Linked DNA regions of Homo sapiens. The protein of the gene in region 1 interacts with the protein of each later gene in a pairwise test. Each region holds a gene or a part of one and is shown in the gene's direction. Other genes may lie near its edges.

Region 1 (7,832 bases):
TTCCCTATCCCATGTAAGCCCCTGATACACAGACAGGGCTTCAGCTCATGAGTTCCTATTAAATGTTTCTTTTGGAGAAACTGAATTTGTCAGCCTCTTTCTTTAACCTCTTAGCTTCCTCCGACTTTAGGGGCAGGCTTGCACAGACCTGCTTACCGAGAAATGAGACCATTTCCCCAGGCCTGACGTTCTCTGAGAGTCACAGACAGTGCTGGAGACTGAGCCTTTGTGTAGATCTGTCTTATTTTTTCATGATCAGATTCAGGTTGAACATTTCTGGCTGGAAATTCTACTTGAAGGAGTCTGTATCTTTTCTCTGAGTATCACATCAGGTACCCAGGATGTCAAATGGTCCCACTGTTGGTGTTGTTGACCTTGGTCATTTTGCTAAGGTAGTGTCTGACCAATGTTATTATAAAGGTTCCTTTCTCCCCGTATAATGAATTAGAGGCCTGTGGGAAGACTGTGTGCTCCGTAAAGGCTTTTCAGGAAACAAAGATGTTGGCATTGTGCAACTTTGTATGATGTTTTCAGTTAGCAAATTGTGACTGTCTGCTCATACCATTAAATATTCTTCAAAAACATGATTTCCAACCTGTGGGTGCGTTCTACTTAACTATTACCTACTAGGATGTAACTATTAGCTTGCTAACACAAGCTCCACGACAATGCAGATTTTCATCAGTTTTACTTACTGCCATGTTTCCAGCACTGAGAGTGGTATCTGGCACACAGTAGAAGCTCAACAGAAAATTGTTGAATGAATGAATACAGCTTGTGTGTAATTTTTCAATATCCTAATGTCACAGCAAACATCCTTGTAAATAAATCTTTGAAGTATTTATTTTGTGAGAAACACAGATAATGCTTGTAAGGGAAATGTTTATGTTGATAATGTGAAAAAATAAGAATGCAAAATCATACATATGCCATATTCTCCACAACATCAAGATATGCAAAGAGAACCATCTGGGAAAAAAACAGAGCAAACAATTGACTGGAATTATCTCTGAACAGTTTTAAGGTATTTTGAACATTTCTCTGTATTTTCCACAATGAGAATATACCGCTTGTATGCAAAGGAGCAGCAGCACCTTTCTCTTTTTTTTTTTTTTTTGAGATGGAGTCTCGCTCTGTCGCCCAGGCTGGAGTGCAGTGGCGTGATCTTCGCTGACTGCAAGCTCCACCTCCTGGGTTCACGCCATTCTCCTGCCTCAGCCTCCCAGGTAGCTGTGGCTACAGGGCCCGCCACCATGCCTGGCTAATGTTTTGTATTTTTAGTAGAGACAGGGTTTCACCATGTTAGCCAGGATGGTCTCGATCTCCTGACCTCGTGATCCGCCCACCTCGGCCTCCCAAAGTGCTGGGATTACAGGCGTGAGCCACTGCGCCCGGCCTACCTTTTTCTTTTTAAAGTTAGTTTTGCAAGTCAAGAGTCATAGTAACTGGGGGTACCCAAACTGGTTAAAAACCAAATTCAGGTTAAGGCCACACCAACTGTAGGAGACTGTGGACTCGCAGGAGCCCCTGGACGCTGGGCTAGGCTGATTACATTTAGGATATCAGGTTCCCTTTCTGGTGTCACATTTTAAAAGCGATATTGTCTAACTGGTGCCTGTCTAAAGGAGAGTGGCCAGTTGGTACAGGATCTGAAAATTGTGTTACTGTTAACACTTAAGGAACTGGGAGCATTATTCCTCCAACAGAAGACTGGGGGATTGAGAAGTTGCTTTTAATATTTGAAGAGCTGTCAAATAACAAAGTGATGATTCTTATTTTATGCACTTGTAGAGGAAAAGCTTCAATAAGGCAGTTTTTTTATTCTAGTAAATGAGGAAGACTTTTTTTTTTTTTTTTGAGACAGAATCTCACTCTGTCGTCCAGGCTGGAGTGCAGTGGTGTGATCTCGGCTCACTGCAACCTCCACCTCCCGGGTTCAGCAATTCTCCTGCCTCAGCCTCCCGAGTAGCTGGGACTACAGGTACACACCACCATGCCCGGCTAATTTTTGTACTTTTAGTAGAGACAGGGTTTCACCATGTTGGCCAGGCTGGTCTCGAACTCCTGACCTCACGTGATCTGCCTGCCTCGGCCTCCCAAAGTGCTGGGATTACAGGCGTGAGCCACCGCGCCAGGCAACTTTTTTTTTTGGGGGGGTGATGGTGGGGGGATAGAGTCTCGCTCTGTCACCCACGGTGGAGTGCAGTGGTGCGATCTCAGCTCACTGCAACCTCTGCCTCTCGGGTTCAAGCGATTCTCCTGCCTCCGCCTCCCGAATAGCTGGGAATACAGGTGCATGCCACCACACCTGGCTAATTTTTGTATTTTTAGTAGAGTAGGGTTTCACGCCACCATGCCTGGCTAATTTTTGTATTTTTTAGTAGAGACAGGGTTTCACCATGTTGGCCAGGCTGGTCTCGAACTCCTGATCTCAGGTGATCCACCCATCTTGGCCTCCAAAAGTGCTAGGATTACAGGCGTGAGCCACTGTGCCCGGCCTCAAGGAAGACTTTCTTAACAATTCATCATATAGTAGAAAATGAAAACATTCCCTAGAAAGGAGTGGACACCAGGTGGCCTTTCCCAGGGGAGCAGGGCAGGAATTATTGAAGCAGTTAGGAGGTGAGAGAGATGCCTGCCCTGGGGGCACCTGGGATGCTTGGCGTGGCCACTTCCAGCATCCTCCACAAACCTGCCTGCAACTCCCCCATACATGCAGCCTCTTCCGAGACAGAGGAATGGTCAGGGTCCCCTGGTGCCTGCCTCCCCCTTCATTTGGGTCTCTTCTTCAGGGCCAGCTCCACAGAGAATCCGTCCCTCATACCTCATCACTCCCTCCCCATTCTCTGGCCCTGATTTAGTTTTCTTCCTAACACTCTTTCTGACAGACACACTGTTACCTGTTAACTCATTTCCTTCTGTTTGTCCCCTCTAACATGCTTGCTGTATGGATGGAGGGGCCTTATTCTCCTGGTTCCTGGGGACAGACCAGTGTTCACAGACCCCAGACCAGGGACTGTTGTACAGCAGGCCTGCCATATTTGTTCAATGAACGAATGATTCCCAAAAGAAATAGAGCACAGAGTTCAGAGGCGGCCTTCAGGGAAGAAATTTCAACAATGTCAAAAATTAATTGTGGAGTATCCATTGATAGATGAATGGATAACTTAAATGTGGAATATGCATACAATGGAATATTATTCAGCCATAAGAAAGAAGGGGCTGGGCGCCGTGGCTCACGCCTGTAATCCCAACACTTTGGGAGGCCCAGGCAGGCGGATCACGAGGTCAGGAGATCGATTCCATCCTGGCCAACATGATGAACCCCGTCTCTACTAAAACACACACACAAAAAAATTAGCCAGGCGTGGTGGCGTGCCCCTGTAGTCTCAGCTACTCAGGAGGCTGAGGCAGGGGAATCGCTTGAACCTGGGAGGTGGAGGTTGCAGTGAGCCGAGATTGCACCACTGCACTCCAGCCTGGCGACAGAGTGAGACTCCGTCAAAAAAAAGAAGGGAAGGGAAGGGGAGGGAAGAAGGAAGGAAAGAAGGAAGGAAAGAAAGAAAGAAAGAAAGAGAGAGAGAAAGGAAAGAAAGAAAGAAAGAAAGAAAGAAAGAAAGAAAGAAAGAAAGAAAGAAATTCTGACACATGCCACAACATGGATGGAAGTGAGGACACTGTGCTAACTAAAGTAAGACTGTCACAAAAAGACATATAATGTATGATTCCACTTATACGATGTCCTTAGAGTAGTCTAATTTAGAGACGAATAGTGAATGCCAAAGGCTAGGAGGAGGAAAGAATGGGGAGCTAGTGTTTACTGGGTATGGAGTTTCCATTTGAGAAGATGAAAAAGTCCTGGAGACGGTTGGTGGTTGCACAAGAATGTGAATGTACTTGGTGCCACAGAACTACACTTGGAAACAGTTAAGATGGTAAGTTTTACGTTATGTGTATTTTACCACAATTAAGAAAAATTAATTATGGGTAGTTGAGAGAATGTGGTCTTCCTCAACTTACGGTAGGAAAAGTCAAGAATAACTTAAAGGCTGATAATAGCATTTCAAAGATCGAAACTGATCAGAGAGGCTATTCCATCAGGCTAGACTAGCTCAATAGTGACTTTTTCCAGAAGGAGAACCACTGGGAAGAGAGAACTGAGCAGTGAGGACAGCGAACTTGTTAAGTTTAGTTTTCTGCTTTAACGAGGGGCTTCCGGAGTCCTTTAATAAGATCCCCTCCCAAAAGTGGCACCCTGGGTCTCTCTGTCTCCCAGTCGTGTCCCCGCCCGCCGGGCCAGAGCAATGGACTCCCAGGAAGCAGGGGGGGCGCGGGCGGGGCGCGGGCGGGGCGGGTGGGGGAAGGGCAAGGACTCACTCTTCCTTTCCTCCTCCGCCGGGGCCCGCCCCGAGCCCTGGCCCCACCCCGGCTCTCTGGATCCGCCTCCTCCTCCCGACCCCGCCCCGGCACCTTGGCCCCGCCTTCCACTCGGCCCCGCCCCGGCGTCCTGGCCCCGCCTCCGCCGCCCGGCCCCGCCCCGCTCCCGGCGGACTGCGAGCAGGAAGAGCGCAGTGGCTCTGCCGACGCCGCGTTCAGAAAGGTGTGGAGGGGGCTGGGGGCGCAGGTCGCGATCAGGCTGCGTCTCCTGCCCGCCCAGCCACCTGCGGCCCTGGCCCCACCCTGCCGCTTTGGGCCGCTCGGGCTCGCGGCCGCCCCCGCCCCGAGCGCCGGCTCGGGGCTCTGCTGCTCTGGCCTGGGAGGCGGGGCCGGCTGCGCGGCGTCATGCATATGCATGAGCGGCGCGGCGGCGGCTCCATTGTGCCCTCGGAGCGGGCGGCGGCGCGATGGCGCGGGTGGCGGCGGCCCCGGGGCGGCGGGCGGCGCGGAGGGCGGGCTGAGCGCATGGAGCGGCGCGGGCCGGGGGCCGCCACGGCGAGGGGCCGGGCCAGGCCGGGCGGAGGTGAGCGGGGTCCTGGGGGTGGCCCCTGGCAACGCCGCCAGCAGGCAGGTGTGGGCCGGCGGGGGCAGGCAGGTGCGGCAGGTGCGGGCCGGCAGGTGCGGGCGGGCAGGCAGGTGTAGCTGGTCGCCCGGGGCGCCCCGGTTCCGCTGCGGCGCCACGGTAGGGTTCACAGCTGGGCTGGGGCTAGAGGCTCTGCCGCCCACCTGCCGGCACCTGCCACGCGTGCGTCGTGGTCTTGGGCAGGCTCGGCCCCGTGGGCGTCAGGGTCATCCAGCCCTCCCCTGAGTCTTTGTTGGAGGCTGGCCGAGGGGTGTAAGCGGCGCTCGGGGTTCTCCTGAGCGATGAAGGCTGGCCGGGCCTTCGCTCCAACCTGATCGTTCCTAGCTTTGGGGCCAGGCAGTCTCACCTACATGGTACGCCCCTCCGCTCCTACTTACGTGCCCACCAGCACGGCGATGTGGGGGCCGTCTGAGGCCGTCACCTGCTCGCGGAGGAGCTGTTCCGCTCCTGGGCTGAACGACGCTGAGCGGCCAGCCCCCAGCTGCCAGTTTTGATGGGGACACCCCTTTCCAAACTGGACATACTGAAGCTCAGGCGTGAGGATGCCCTGCTCCCCTGAGGTGCCTTGTCTTCCCTAGTGCCAGGTGTCCTTCACCGCGGCACCCCCACCCGGTGCCTTGTTTACCCCTCCACCTACCGTGTCTCTCCTCCCATTCCCTGGACCCTCTGCCCTGCAGTGTTCTGCCTCTCCTTCTCCCTAGGGTACCCTCTTTCCAGTATTACAGAACATCCATGGTGGTGTCTTTAATTTGTGTCATCGCAGATTTCACAGGGACACACACGGAACATGTGACTTGGTCTGAGACCGTGGTGATTACGGATAGGATGGACACAGACTCACCACCAAGTTCTGGCAAGCTAGAACCAGAGGGCATCCCTTGATGCTTAGTGTGGAAACAGGAGAAGTGAAGGAATCTTAACTTCCAGAGGTACTGACCTCTAGCCCTTGTCATGCCCAGGGGATAGTTACAAGCTGGAAGTGTAAATGAAGAGAACAAGCAGGTGACAGTTGCCGGTTGTAGATTTCTGAAGGACAGGCCTAAGATGTTTGGGGAGCATCCTGATTATTGGGATTGAGCTCCCAAGGGCTGATGACATGAAGGTGGTCATGTGTCCTCAGTCCTAGGATGCTACCAGATATCCATCTTACACATTGTAAACTGATGCCAGGTTAAGGTTGTCCCTTCAGCTGTTCACTGAAATGTCTCATGCCTGGGCCATTGCTTATTCCTGGACTTTTTGATGAACTCTGCATCCTGACTTAGCCCCACGCTTAGACATTTTAGTACTGTGGCCTTACAGGTAGAGGGGGCAGGACTTTCAGCTACCTGTATATGTGAGTACCCCACTTTTTGCTACCAAGGACCCCGCTCCTGCAACATTCCACAGCCATCATTTCTTCAATACCCTTTGACTCCATTGTCACCTGGGTTGGATCCTGACCCTGCAATCTTGGAGACAGTGAGTCCTGATGTGTGACCTATTGAGAAGCGTTGCCTGCCACAGGGCCCACTTGCTGGTCCTGCTCCTAGCTGACTAGGCAGGCAGAGAGGTGGCATGGAACAAGGCTCAGGAGGTCAACCAGGAGACTTGGGGGTGCAGCTACTCTGGGACATTTGGGGAAGAGAGGTCTGGGGTAGTGAGTTCTGTAACTCTGTCTAGAGGAAGATGTGATCTGACCCCCGAGAAAGCCTTGTGGCCCTCTAGACTGACCTTGTCCATCTCTCAAGGGGTCCTAGCTTCCAGCTGGAGTTAGTTTACAAGGAAAGCGCCAGGCACTAAGACCCTTGGTGGGCATGGGCCTTGCATGATCTGGGATCCAGATTCCAGGCTCCAGGCTTGTTCCCAACCCAGACTCAAAGCCAGGAGATGAGAAGAGGATCTGCACACACACAACGCAGAACACTATCCTATCATCAGGGGCACAGGGTCAAGGATACCAGACCTGGAGACTGGAAGTCTTTTCAGAGAGACTGTCCTCAGAGAGGAGACCAGAGGCATGAGTTCGGGTCGGCAGGAAATCCCCCTGTGCAGTGAAGAGTAAGCTCAGAGGGAACTGGAAATCTTTGTGGTCTCTGTCCACAGCAGAGAACCATCAGGGGTGGAATTCCCCAGGCTCATGTGACATAGGAGCCTGCTGTGGGCTCCTCCCCTCCTTGTACCTGCCCTGTGCTCCTTCTCCCCAGCTCACTGCATTTCCTAGATCTGAGGTTCTCAAACTACAGTTCCTGGACCAGCAGCAGCAGTAGCTGCAAACTTGTTAGAAATTCTGGGCTTAGGCCCCAGCCCATCCTACTGACTTCAGGTGGGGCTGGGCAGCCTGTCATCACCAGCTGCGAGCTGGTTTTGATGTGCTGCAGTTGGGGAGCTGCTGCCCTAGGTGACCTAAAATGAGGCAGTGCTGCACAGAGTGCTGCCTGCACTTTGAGGCCTTTGACCACGGGCGGGGGAGGGGGCACATCTGCTTGCCTGCCAGATTCCCTCTCTGTTCTTGGGACAGCAAAGTGGCCAGCCAACCCAACCAGCTTTCTAGTGGGGAAAGATTGTCACAGCAGTTCTGCGGAGACAGAAGGCTGGTGGTAGCAGTTGTATTGTAATTAAACTTTTTATTTTGAAATTATTGGCTGGACACAGTGGTGCTCACCTCTAATCCCAGCACTTTGGGAGGCCGAGGTGGGTGGATCACTTGAGGTCAAGAGTTCAAGACCAGCCTGGCCAACATGGCGAAACTTCATCTCCACTAAAAATACAAAAATTAGCCAGGCATGGACTATGGTGGTGTACACCTGTAGTCCAGTTACTCAGGAGGCTG
Region 2 (5,014 bases), on another chromosome or scaffold:
CGCCCAGCCCAAATTTTTTTTATTGTGATAAAATATGCACAGTTTAAAATTTACCATTGTAACCATTTTTTTCTTTTCTTTTTTTTTTTTTTTTTTTGAGATGGAGTTTTACTCTTGTCACCCAGGCTGGAGTGCAGTGACGTGATCTCGGCTCACTGCAAGCTCCGCCTCCCGGGTTCACGCCATTCTCCTGACTCAGCCTCCTGAGTAGCTGGGAGTACAGGCGCCCGCCACCATACCCGGCTAATTTTTATATTTTTGTAGAGATGGGGTTTCACTGTCTTGGCCAGGCTGGTCTCAAACTCCTGACCTCAAGTGATCTGCCTGCCTCAGCCTCCCAAAGTGCTGGGATGGGATTACAGGTGTGAGCCGCCGCACCTGGCCTGTAACCATTTTATTGTATCCAGTTCAGAGGCACGAGGTACATTCATGATGATCAAACATCACCCGTCTACTTACATCTTCAAGCCAAATGGGAACCCTATATCTGTTTGCATCTATTTTTAATTTATACAGATAGTATCGTGATAAAGACTTTGATGCTTTTTAAAAAACTTGGCACTGCACACACACATTTGTGAACCGTCCGAGAGCACGTTGCAACATCACGGTTTTACCTCTTAATATTTTTTTTTTTTTGAGATGGAGTCTCGCTCTTCACCCAGGCTGGAGTGCAGTGGCGCGATCTTGGTTCACTGCAAGCTCCGCCTCCCGGGTTCACGCCATTCTCCTGCCTCAGCCTCCCAAATAGCTGGGACTACAGGCGCCCGCCACCACGCCCGGCTAATTTTTTGTATTTTTAGTAGAGACGGGGTTTCACTGTGTTAGCCAGGATGGTCTCGATCTCCTGACCTCGTGATCCGCCCACCTCGGCCTCCCAAAGTGCTGGGATTACAGGCGTGAGCCACCGCGCCCGGCCTACCTCTTACTATTTCAGTGTATATTTCCTAAGATCAAAGATATTCTCTTGTATAACCATAGCACAAATACAGATTTCAGGAAATTGAATTTAGATACAATCCTTTTATCTAATACATAGACTATATTCCAATTTCATTCATTGGCACAATCATAACTTTCAAAGCAGTATTGTTCCTGGCCCAGGAGCCAGTCCGGAGTCGAGGATTGCGTTCAGCTGTTATGTTCCTGTGTGGCTGGGAAGCGGGTCTCAGACGGTTTCATCTGTAAATGTCAGTATCAGCGTCTAATAAAGATAAGCCTCTTTTTAAGCAGCCACGACACCTGATCACACCTAACCACCACTCCTGGCATTGCACATCCGTCTGGTGTTTGTGTTTCCTGTTGTCTTACCCGTGACATGGTTTTCTGTGGTTAGAATTGGGTTGAAACGAGGACTCAGACATGATCAGCTGAGCCCTCGGTCCCTCTCCTGGACACGAAGCTCCCGCCCTAGTGGGGCCCCACGGTGGGTTTTGGTGCCTGGTGCTCGCACAGTTGGCAGAGGGGGGTGGGGGCCTCATCTGGGGTTGGGAGGGGGTGGGGGGCTTTCTGAGGCTGGGCTGTTTATCTGGAGGCCGAGAGCCAGGCTGGGCACAGCCGTGGGTGCTTGTAGGCCTGGACCAGAGACTGCCTTGCAAACAGGTAATTCTTCCCACAGGTGTGGGGCTCAGAGAGGGGGAGATGGGGAGGGCACAAAAAGAGAGCCTCTTGGAGAAGGCGACTCTGAGTGGGGTCCTGGGGCCCCTGTTCGTTTCCAGGACACATCTGCCCTCAGTGGGACGGGCTCAGTCAAGGCCAGCCCAGGGGAGGCTGCTGTGGGCTCCCGCTCTGCTGCTCAGGCGAGCCCTGCTTCTCTTTATGTTTCCCGTTGTCCACAGTTTGGGCAAGATTATTGAGTGGGGTTTTTTTTAAACAATGGAAGTTGATTTTATTTGAAGTTCCATTCTGCCTTTTTTTTTTTTTTTTTTTTTTTTTTTTTGGAGACAGTCTCACTCTATCGCCAGGCTGAAGTGCAATGGCGCGATCTCAGCTCACTGCACCCTCTGCCTCCCAAGTTCAAGCGATTCTCATGCCTCAGCCTCCCGAATAGCTGGGATTACAGGCGCCCACCACCACGCCCAGCTAGTTTTTGTATTTTTAGTAGAGATGGGGTTTCACCATTTTGGCCAGGCTGGTCTCGAACTCCTGACCTCAGGTGATCCGCCCGCCTCGGCCTCCCAAAGTGCTGAGATTACAGGCGTGAACCACCGCGTCCGGCCAACACTCAGTCTTGTGGCAGCACAGCGGGCACCCTGGAGAGACTGGAGCAGGGTGTGTGGGCTGCAGGTCTGGCTCCTGGGATCGCAGATTTCTCCTCTGGCCTCAGACCTCCCATCCAGGCACTGTGAGCTCATCAGTAAAATGTAGACTTCGTAGCACCCCCTCCACAGCCCTCCGTGAGACTCGTGGAGATTTCCTGAGCTGGGCACAGGAGGCCCAGAGTGCCCGCCACGGAGGGGGCTCCTGACCCACTGTTGTTCGTGATGTTTGTGATGTAGGCATCACACTCTGAAGGCGGTTCTAGGAAGCTCTGACGCACGGAGGCACTCTGGGCTGTCTGGGGGCCCGTGGGTTGCAGGGCGCATGTGGGCCATGGCAGGTGTGGTGTTGCTGATGCCTTTCCTGTGCCCCCAGCAATACTACATCCTGCTGATCCTGACGGACGGCGTGGTGACCGACATGGCCGACACACGGGAGGCCATTGTGCGTGCCTCACGCCTGCCCATGTCCATCATCATCGTGGGCGTGGGCAACGCCGACTTCACCGACATGCAGGTCCTGGACGGCGACGACGGCGTCCTGCGCTCCCCACGGGGTGAGCCCGCGCTCCGGGACATCGTACAGTTCGTGCCCTTCCGGGAGCTCAAGAACGTGAGTGTCCTGGAGGGGCTCCGTCAAGGCCGGCTTGGGGGTCCCTGTTCATGTCACTGCCCAAGACCTTCCCAGGCCAGGCTCACGCCAGTGGATGTGGCAGGTCCCTTCTTGTGTCTGGGGGATCCTGGGCTGTTCCCCCCAGTCAAGAGCAGTATCTGAAGCCAGGACTTTGAGCACCTGAAACACCCTCCACCGTTTTGAAACTTGTCGAATCTACACAAAAGCAGAGAACAGCACAAGGGGCTCCTGGGATCCACCACGCGGCTTCCCCCGTTGCTGCCAACCTCTGCGACCCGGCGAGACACGCACAGCACACACGTGAGGTTCTACCCGCCGAGACACACACAGCACACACGTGAGGTTCTACCCGGTGAGACGCACAGCACACACGTGAGGTTCTACCAGGCAAGACACACATGTCACACATGAGGCCCTACAGCAAGACGTGCATGCCACATAGATGTGAAGTTCTACACAGCAAGACACCACAGACATGCATGAAGACACGGACACGTGACATTCTACGCAGTGAAACATGCATATTACAGACACATGAAGCTCTGCAGTGAGTCACATCACACAGACACGCTCAGGCTTTGCCGGGGAAGTGTGGGTGGGGCCTGGACCATGGAGGTGGCCTCGCCTCCCGTGTCAGCACTTTTCATCTCCGTGCTTGGGGGGCTGGAAAGACCCACGTGCAGCCTCATGTGGCCGACATCCTCAGCAAGTCTTGCCCGGCACCCAGGTGAGCCTCTGGTGGGGGTGGGTAGTCACCACTCGGCTCTGGAGGATGAGGCCTGGGCCATAATCCAGTTGCAGGGACGGATGATCTCCATCTCGAAGGTCCCAGAGGTAACTGCGTTGTCCCATCCTCCAGGCATCCCCTGCGGCGCTGGCCAAGTGCGTGCTGGCCGAGGTCCCGAAGCAGGTGGTGGAGTACTACAGCCACAGAGGCCTGCCCCCGAGAAGCCTGGGTGTCCCTGCCGGAGAGGCCAGCCCAGGCTGCACACCGTGAAGATGTGGAGGGCGTAGGGTGGGGGCAGTGAGGAATGGGTCCGTACAGCCTCTGTCTGCAACATGCTTGGGGTCCCTTAAGCTCCCTCCGACCTCCCAGAAGCCTCCAGTCCCCACCAGGCCCCACTCCCAGTCCTCCTGGGATCCTGCTGGCTTGGGCCCGGCTCTGGGGCCCCCAAGGCCGAAGGGTGACAAAATACAGGCCCCCATGCCTGGCCCTGCCTGAGCCAGGTGGGTGGAGGGAGGGAGATCATGAGGGACTTGGAGGGAGCTGGGAGTTCATCCACGGGAGACCCTGCCCCGATGAGAAGGGGCAGGGACTGGGGGCTCTGCTTTGCGTCTAACCTTTGTGGGGGAGGGCCAGCAAGGCAGTCCCCCCACGCCCGAGAAAGCCTGGGGGACCCAGACACCTGTCCCCACAGTCAAAGCCTGGGGACCCAGACATCCTGTCCCCACAGTCAGCCTCCTGTCCCTGCTGGTGCCCCCACACCCACCTACCCTGTGCTTTTTGCCGTCGGGCCTCTGCACCTGGGTCCATGGGGTCTGCGGGGTCTGCGGGGTCTGCCTGGCCTGTGGGTTCTGCCGGTGGGGCTTCAGGAGTAATAAAGTGTCACCCTATCCTTGTAGTTCTCTTGTGCCTTCAGTCCCTTCCCCAACCCCCCAGAGGGCTGGGCCTGGCTTCCAAAGTGCCCACATCTGAGGCAGGGGCTCTCCCAGGCCCAGCACACCAGGATCCTCCCTGGACTGAATGGGATGCGGGATGCACAGGCTGCCAGGGGCAGAGAGCGGGGATCCGCACCATGGCTGCCTCCACCCGCGAAGGAGCTCCACTCGGCTTCCTGGGACTCCCAGGCCTGAAACCCAGTGAGTGAGGACTGTGGACGTGATGCAGGGGTGCCAGGAGCCTCCCACATGGCCTGCACCGCAGGGAGCTGGGCTGGAGGGTGAAGCCTCCATGTGATGTTCGTGGAGCCGGGGCATCTCCCACCTGCTGGGACCTCCTCGCCCTGAGTTTGAGATTTCCCCTGAATGATCTTGCCTGAGAAAAACAAATTGTCCTAACCCTGAATCCAGGCCCACCCATCCCCACATCGGTCCATCCACCCACCCATCCGTCCACCCATCG
Region 3 (8,005 bases), on another chromosome or scaffold:
TAGAGCTGGGACTTTAACTCAGGTCTGAATCACTGTGCACAATGACAATGAGAGTGTCAGATCTCTGAAGTCCCAGCTCCAAAATGGTATGAATTCCATGTTAAGTGTTGAGTCCTTTGAAGTCAAAGAAATTTTCATTAAAAGAACATTCTTATGTTTGATCTAAGATATTCCTGTTCTGGAAACAAATATCTTTTTCTCACTTAGCACCAGGTGTACCAATCATTGTGCCTGTTAGTCTACTGTGTTACATAGGCCATAGTTACATTAGTAGGTCTGGGTTGCAAAGGATTATTATGTGTCTACATTTAGGAAAGAGGAGTAAGGAGGAGAAGATGAGATATTTCCCTAAGAAGTAGTCAGTAGCAATAGTTACAGAATCAATTCATAATTATGGAAGCTACCAATTAGCATTGTTCAGTGTCAATAATAAGTAAGTGGGCCAGAGGCAGTGGCTTACATCTGTACTCTCAGCACTTTGTGGGGACAAGGCAGGAGGATCCCTTGAGCCCAGGTATTCCAGACAGCCTGGGCAACATAGTGAAACCTCATCTCTACAGAAAAAAATATTTTAATTAGCTGGGCATGATTGTGCATGCCTGTAGTCCCAGCTATTCAGGAAGCTGAGGTGGGAGGATCACCTAAGCCTGGGAGGTAGAGTCTGCAGTGAGCTATGATTGTGCCACTTCACTCCAGCCTTAATGGGTGGATGATGCTTGAACTCTGTAGAACAAAGCCTTTCACCTTACAATTAGAAATATGGTGGCCGGGCGCGATGGCTCACGCCTGTAATCCCAACACTTTGGGAGGCCGAGGTTGGCAGATCACCTGAGGTCGGGAGTTTGAGACCAGCCTGACCCACATGGAGAAACCCCATCTCTACTAAAAATACAAAATTAGCCGGGCTTGGTGGCACATGCCTGTAATCCCAGCTACTTGGGAAGGCTGAGGCAGGAGAATCGCTTGAACCTGGGAGGTGGAGGTTGCGGTGAGCCGAGATCATGCCATTGCACTCCAGCCTGGGCAATGAGAGCAAAACTCCGTCTCAAAAAAAAAAAAAAAAAAAAAAAGAAAGAAAAAAAAAGAAATATGGCTCAAATATCAATTAAAAAAGAAAAAAATATGCTTCAAGATACCCATACCTGGGAAAGAAATGCAATCACTTAAACTTACAGTAAGGTGTAAATTATATCAAATTCTATTCATGGAAGCAGATTTTTCACTGGGAAAGGATACAAGGAAGTTAATGTGTGGTTGTGGGCACTGTAGGGAGGGGACCTGATGGGAAGATTTAGCATTGAGAGTTCATTTTGTCTGTGTCCCAATTGTGGCCAAGTTTAGCTCAGGTAAGATCTGTGAGGAGCAGGGTGGAAGGTATGATGGAAAGGGCAGTCCTCCATGTGGGTCTCATCATTGTGTCACCATCTTTGTATTCTCATTGGAATCACCTGAGGAGCTTTATCAAACTAATGCCTGGATCCTATCCTCAGGGATTATGAATTAATTAGCCTGGGATGTGGCCTGGACACAGGGATTTTTTTTAAGTTTGGTTGGTTGGTTGCTTTTGCAGAGATGGGGGTCTCACTATGTTATGCAGGCTGGTCTCAAATTCCTGGCCTCAAGCAATCCTCCTGCCTTGGCCTCCAAAAGTGCTAGGATTATAGGCATGAGGTACCCACTGTGCTTAAACTTTCTTTTCTTTTTTTTTTCTTCTTTTTTTTGAGATTTTGAGATGGAGTCTCAAACCCTTGAGCTCAAGTGATCCTCCCGCCTCAGCCTCCAGAGTAGCTGGGACTACAAGGAACAGACCACTGCACCTAAACATAAAAATTTTAAAACTCTCTTCTGGTAATCCTAATGGGCAGCAAAATTTGAAAACCGCTGTTCAAATGTATCACCCTGCTACATACAACTCACCTATTTTTCTCTTTGTTCTCCCGAACAGTTCTCTCTGAAGCCTAAAGAAGCAATCTGATGGGACACTAGATTTAGAAGGGAAGCCACCTGGTTTCCCTTTTCTTTGTCATTTCAGCTCTCTATAAGTTTAAACAAGCTTGTCCAGGTCTTAGTCCCACCCCGGACTTTGCATTTGACCGGAGATAGCTTACCTCACCTTATCTGCTATCTAGGGACACCATTACCAGTTTAGTTTATTCCTGCATTTGTGACTTCATTCATGTTTGTGTAAGAATCCTGCCCCCCTTTTCAGGATGTGCAGTGAGTGCAAAGTACTGAGAAATGGAGGGTTCCTCTTACAGGTGGCTGTTGATCCAGTCACCTTTCACCAGGGACTAAATTTACCTTAAAGAAGAGCTTAGATCAAATTACGCATCAGAAAGCACATTTCATTAAAGAGCAAGAAAGGGGACAGTGTTTCCCAGGAGAAGATGAAAAGAAAAGGATTTCTTTTCTTGTCAGAAGACTTGACAAAACAGCAACTGGATATCAAATGTTCAATGCTAATTAACAAATGCTCAGTAGAAAGCCTCCATCTGATTCCCTCTCCCTGACTAAGGCCAGGGAGCAAATGGCAGGTAGAAGCCACACAGGGCCCTTTCTCTAGCATTAGGGAAGCCATACAAAGTTGATGTGCTTGAGAAAGCATTGGACAGGAGTCAAAATTCTGAATGCTTGCTTCACTGAATTACTGTGTGAACTTGGAAAAGTCACTTAACCTCTCCAAGCTTCAGTTTCCTTATCTGTAAAAATAAACCACATTGCACAAAACTGTGACTTGCCATAAACTGAAATAGAACCCCCCTCCCTCATTTGTAAGTCCAGGCCTGGAAGCACAGAACCCGTCCATTTCAGAATTATGACTCACAATGCTAAGAGCCTTATTATCTGAAGTTTCAAAACATAATTCAGTAAACTGTTTTAAGTTTAAAAACACAGGCAAAATTTATGTTGAGAAGTAAAGTGGATGTTACTAATATTTTAAATAGGTTGTTTCAGCTCCCCCACCCACTGCAATAAAAGACTTCCTACCTTTGAAATATGCTGCTGATATTAGCCAATATCTTACCTCAGAAATTAATAAGATTAACAAACAACATGGAAAACAGATCTAATTTTAGTATATGTGTATTTAAGGTTACTTCGATTATTTTGCTACTGACAATGTAAATTATCTCATTGATTAAATTCAGGACTCCCCAAACTTTAAAAATCTCACATGTACATATTAATTTTTTTAGACTTTTTTTTTTTTTTGAGACGCAGTTTCACTCTTGTTGCCCAGGCTGGAGTGCAATGCCACGATCTCAGCCCCCTGCAACCTCCACCTCCTGGGTTCAAGCCATTCTCCTGGCTCAGCTGCCCCAGTAGCTGGGATTAAAGGTGTACCATCATGCCCAGCTAATTTTTGTATTTTTAGTAGAGACGGGGTTTCAACATGTTGGCCATGCTGGTCTGGAACTTCTGACCTCGTGATCTGCCCACCTCCCAAAGTGCTGGGATTACAGTGAGCCACCGCGCCCGGCTTTTTTTTTTTTTTAAAGTAATGGGGCCTCACTATGTTGCCGAAGCTGGAGGGCAGTGGTTATTCACAGGTGTGATCACAGCTCACTGCAGCCTCAAACTCCTGGACTAAAGCAATTCTCCTGCCTCAGCCTCCCAAGTAGCTGGGGCTACAAGTGTGCACCACCATACCTGGTTTACACATTAATATTGTCCAATTTTTCAATTTTTTGTCCCCACAATATTTTTCTGAGTAAAATACTGCAGCTACAATATTACCACTTTATGAAGAGGGAAACGGTGGTATAACATGGTGTGACTGACCACCATGTCTCAGTTTTATCAGTGAGGCAAGAATAGAACTGGGATTAAAACAATTTAGGTTTACTGATGCCCAGGGAAACCACAAAACCAAGGACTTGTGGTCACTTCCTGCATGTAAGAGAAAGTATTTTAGGAAGTGGGAAGCACTTTAAGACTCATTTCAAGGTAAAAAAGAGAATGCCAGAATACCTGGTCCAGGAGGCATTTTATTCTTACTTATCCTGTCTGAATAGGAGGCTGCCTCTGTGATGGTGAGCAGGTGTTAGCTATTTCTAAGCATTCAAATCAGGCTGGGGCTGAAAGGGCTTTAGACACTGAGGGCTGCCTGGTAGTTCCTACCGCATTGTTTCAAGAGGGCTCCCCTCCCCCCCAGGTTAGAGCTGGGTGGGCCTCCGTAGGCCTCTGCAGGCTAGCGTCTCCCCAAACCCACTGTCTTTAATAGTGACGGTGTGAGGAATGTTGCAAGAGGAGAATAGAGGAGGAAGAGGGTACTAAATAGGAGATGGCTTATTAAATAAGCATGGACTCTATGAATTAGGTGTTGTGTAGGCTGGGCGATCTGCGGAGTAACCTGCATTCAGCTATTATTCAGGGGGAGGAGGGGCGGGGAGTGAAGGGGCTTAGTGTTCCGCAGAGAGTCCTGAAATGACTTCCTGGGAAATTCTACCTTGCAGCCGCCCACCCTGAGAAACTTCTTTTGTGGAGAGGGATGGGGGTAGGGTGGGAATGGAAGTGAGAAAGACGAGACAAAACTTCGAATATTTTGGGGTGTGTGTGCTGGTGAGGAGTGGATGTTCTGATCTCCCCCTCTTCTTCTGGCCCTCAGACCTCTGAGGAGATCAGACGACCCTCTCTGGAATCCACTTTTTCCAAGCTCAGCGGATCCTTTATCCAAAGAAAAATAAGAGAAGCCTATCGCCTTGCTCCACTGAGCAGGGCTACGTTTCCCACTGTGCCCCTAGAGCTTAGGAGGGGAGGGCGGGGGGAGGAGGGTAGGCCTGGGCAAAGGCATCTGCAGATGGGGGGAGCTGGCCAGGGACCGGGAAAGGTGGACCCCCGCAGTGCTTCACAGCACCTGTCACTGCGCCTCCGGAAACTCTCCCGAGCTCTGAGCTCCCGCCCCCACGCCCCCGCTAGCGCTCCCTTCTCCCGCCTCCTCTAGCTCCCGCCTCCCTCCCCAGCAGCTCCTCCCCATAAACTCCCCTCCTCATCAGCTCCTCCCAGATCTCCCCTCTCCCCGCTTTCTCACTCCAGCTTCTCCCCGCCTCCTCGCTCCCCTCCCCCTCCGCCGCTGCTCCCTGCCCCCGCCGCTGCCGATCTCCATCTCCGCAGTCTGGGCCGCTGGGTGCAGAGGCTGCCGCAGACCCAGCGGCCATCGCCTCCCTCAATCCCAATATCCATTGTCTCCCACCCCACCTGGCCCTCCACTTCCCCCACAACCATGGCGCACGAATCCGAGAGGAGCTCTCGTCTCGGGGTGCCCTGCGGGGAGCCGGCAGAGCTCGGAGGTGCGGTAGGGTCGGTCGGGCTGGGCAGGGGTGGGGGCGGAGGGGGATGCGCAGGGGCGGCGAAGACTTTCGGTGGGTGGGAGAAAATGCATGATTCTCTGCGTAGGCCCCTGTCCCCACACCTATTCCGTGAACTCGCTTGTGGCCTGGGGAAGGGAGGGTGGCTGAGGAGGGGAGTAGCATGCTCTTGCCCCCCTCCCCTCCTCCCTCCCCACCCCCCTGCCCCATGCCGGGTTGTCTCCTGTCCACACGGATCAGGCCTGAGCTCTAGACTTCTGCATGGCCCTGATGGTGAGCTCATCTCCCCACCCCCAACTAGCGGTTACTGGCCTCCTTGTTAATTAGAGCCTCGGTATACCCAACCCAACTGCGCCACCCACGCTCTCTCTCCTTGTCTTCTCCCCAGGTGATGCTAGCGAGGAGGATCACCCCCAAGTCTGTGCCAAGTGCTGCGCACAATTCACTGACCCAACTGAATTCCTCGCCCACCAGAACGCATGTTCTACTGACCCTCCTGTAATGGTGATAATTGGGGGCCAGGAGAACCCCAACAACTCTTCGGCCTCCTCTGAACCCCGGCCTGAGGGTCACAATAATCCTCAGGTCATGGACACAGAGCATAGCAACCCCCCAGATTCTGGGTCCTCCGTGCCCACGGATCCCACCTGGGGCCCAGAGAGGAGAGGAGAGGAGTCTTCAGGGCATTTCCTGGTCGCTGCCACAGGTACAGCGGCTGGGGGAGGCGGGGGCCTGATCTTGGCCAGTCCCAAGCTGGGAGCAACCCCATTACCTCCAGAATCGACCCCTGCACCCCCTCCTCCTCCACCACCCCCTCCGCCCCCAGGGGTAGGCAGTGGCCACTTGAATATCCCCCTGATCTTGGAAGAGCTACGGGTGCTGCAGCAGCGGCAGATCCATCAGATGCAGATGACTGAGCAAATCTGCAGGCAGGTGCTGTTGCTTGGCTCCTTAGGCCAGACGGTGGGTGCCCCTGCCAGTCCCTCAGAGCTACCTGGGACAGGGACTGCCTCTTCCACCAAGCCCCTACTACCCCTCTTCAGCCCCATCAAGCCTGTCCAAACCAGCAAGACACTGGCATCTTCCTCCTCCTCCTCCTCTTCCTCTTCAGGGGCAGAAACGCCCAAGCAGGCCTTCTTCCACCTTTACCACCCACTGGGGTCACAGCATCCTTTCTCTGCTGGAGGGGTTGGGCGAAGCCACAAACCCACCCCTGCCCCTTCCCCAGCCTTGCCAGGCAGCACAGATCAGCTGATTGCCTCGCCTCATCTGGCATTCCCAAGCACCACGGGACTACTGGCAGCACAGTGTCTTGGGGCAGCCCGAGGCCTTGAGGCCACTGCCTCCCCAGGGCTCCTGAAGCCAAAGAATGGAAGTGGTGAGCTGAGCTACGGAGAAGTGATGGGTCCCTTGGAGAAGCCTGGTGGAAGGCACAAATGCCGCTTCTGTGCCAAAGTATTTGGCAGTGACAGTGCCCTGCAGATCCACCTTCGTTCCCACACGGGTGAGAGGCCCTATAAGTGCAATGTCTGTGGAAACCGTTTTACCACCCGTGGCAACCTCAAAGTGCATTTCCACCGGCATCGTGAGAAGTACCCACATGTGCAGATGAACCCACACCCAGTACCAGAGCACCTAGACTATGTCATTACCAGCAGTGGCTTGCCTTATGGTATGTCCGTGCCACCAGAGAAGGCCGAGGAGGAGGCAGCCACTCCAGGTGGAGGGGTTGAGCGCAAGCCTCTGGTGGCCTCCACAACAGCACTCAGTGCCACAGAGAGCCTGACTCTGCTCTCCACCAGTGCAGGCACAGCCACGGCTCCAGGACTCCCTGCTTTCAATAAGTTTGTGCTCATGAAAGCAGTGGAACCCAAGAATAAAGCTGATGAAAACACCCCCCCAGGGAGTGAGGGCTCAGCCATCAGTGGAGTGGCAGAAAGTAGCACGGCAACTCGCATGCAACTAAGTAAGTTGGTGACTTCACTACCAAGCTGGGCACTGCTTACCAACCACTTCAAGTCCACTGGCAGCTTCCCCTTCCCCTATGTGCTAGAGCCCTTGGGGGCCTCACCCTCTGAGACATCAAAGCTGCAGCAACTGGTAGAAAAGATTGACCGGCAAGGAGCTGTGGCGGTGACCTCAGCTGCCTCAGGAGCCCCCACCACCTCTGCCCCTGCACCTTCATCCTCAGCCTCTTCTGGACCTAACCAGTGTGTCATCTGTCTCCGAGTGCTTAGCTGTCCTCGGGCCCTACGCCTTCATTATGGCCAACATGGAGGTGAGAGGCCCTTCAAATGCAAAGTGTGTGGCAGAGCCTTCTCCACCAGGGGTAATCTGCGTGCACATTTCGTGGGCCACAAGGCCAGTCCAGCTGCCCGGGCACAGAATTCCTGCCCCATCTGCCAGAAGAAGTTCACCAATGCTGTCACTCTGCAGCAGCATGTCCGGATGCACCTGGGGGGCCAGATCCCCAACGGTGGTACTGCACTCCCTGAAGGTGGAGGAGCTGCTCAGGAGAATGGCTCCGAGCAATCTACAGTCTCCGGGGCACGGAGTTTCCCCCAGCAGCAGTCCCAGCAGCCATCACCGGAAGAGGAGTTGTCTGAGGAGGAGGAAGAGGAGGATGAGGAAGAAGAGGAAGATGTGACTGATGAAGATTCCCTGGCAGGGAGAGGCTCAGAGAGTGGAGGTGAGAA

Evidence for each region. Proteins that work in one complex are often made in the same cells at the same time.
Region 2: the proteins of ZMIZ2 (region 1) and CPNE7 interact in binary tests that used the Homo sapiens proteins (3 or more experiments, as listed by UniProt).
Region 3: the proteins of ZMIZ2 (region 1) and SALL2 interact in binary tests that used the Homo sapiens proteins (3 or more experiments, as listed by UniProt).

What each region holds. Positions count from the first base shown.
Region 1 is NC_000007.14:44,744,032-44,751,863, forward strand, and holds the start of ZMIZ2 (zinc finger MIZ domain-containing protein 2), read left to right. Parts: upstream 1-4,815; 5' UTR 4,816-4,960; intron 4,961-5,783; exon of another isoform or gene 5,784-5,949; intron 5,950-6,874; exon of another isoform or gene 6,875-7,060; intron 7,061-7,832. UniProt on the Homo sapiens protein: Increases ligand-dependent transcriptional activity of AR and other nuclear hormone receptors.
Region 2 is NC_000016.10:89,592,733-89,597,746, forward strand, and holds the end of CPNE7 (copine-7), read left to right. Parts: exon of another isoform or gene 1-1,232; intron 1,233-2,634; coding exon 2,635-2,871; intron 2,872-3,098; coding exon of another isoform or gene 3,099-3,192; intron 3,193-3,751; coding exon 3,752-3,889; coding exon of another isoform or gene 3,890-3,906; 3' UTR 3,907-4,514; downstream 4,515-5,014. UniProt on the Homo sapiens protein: Calcium-dependent phospholipid-binding protein that may play a role in calcium-mediated intracellular processes.
Region 3 is NC_000014.9:21,523,347-21,531,351, reverse strand, and holds the start of SALL2 (sal-like protein 2), read left to right. Parts: upstream 1-5,005; 5' UTR 5,006-5,224; coding exon 5,225-5,291; intron 5,292-5,697; coding exon 5,698-8,005. UniProt on the Homo sapiens protein: Probable transcription factor that plays a role in eye development before, during, and after optic fissure closure.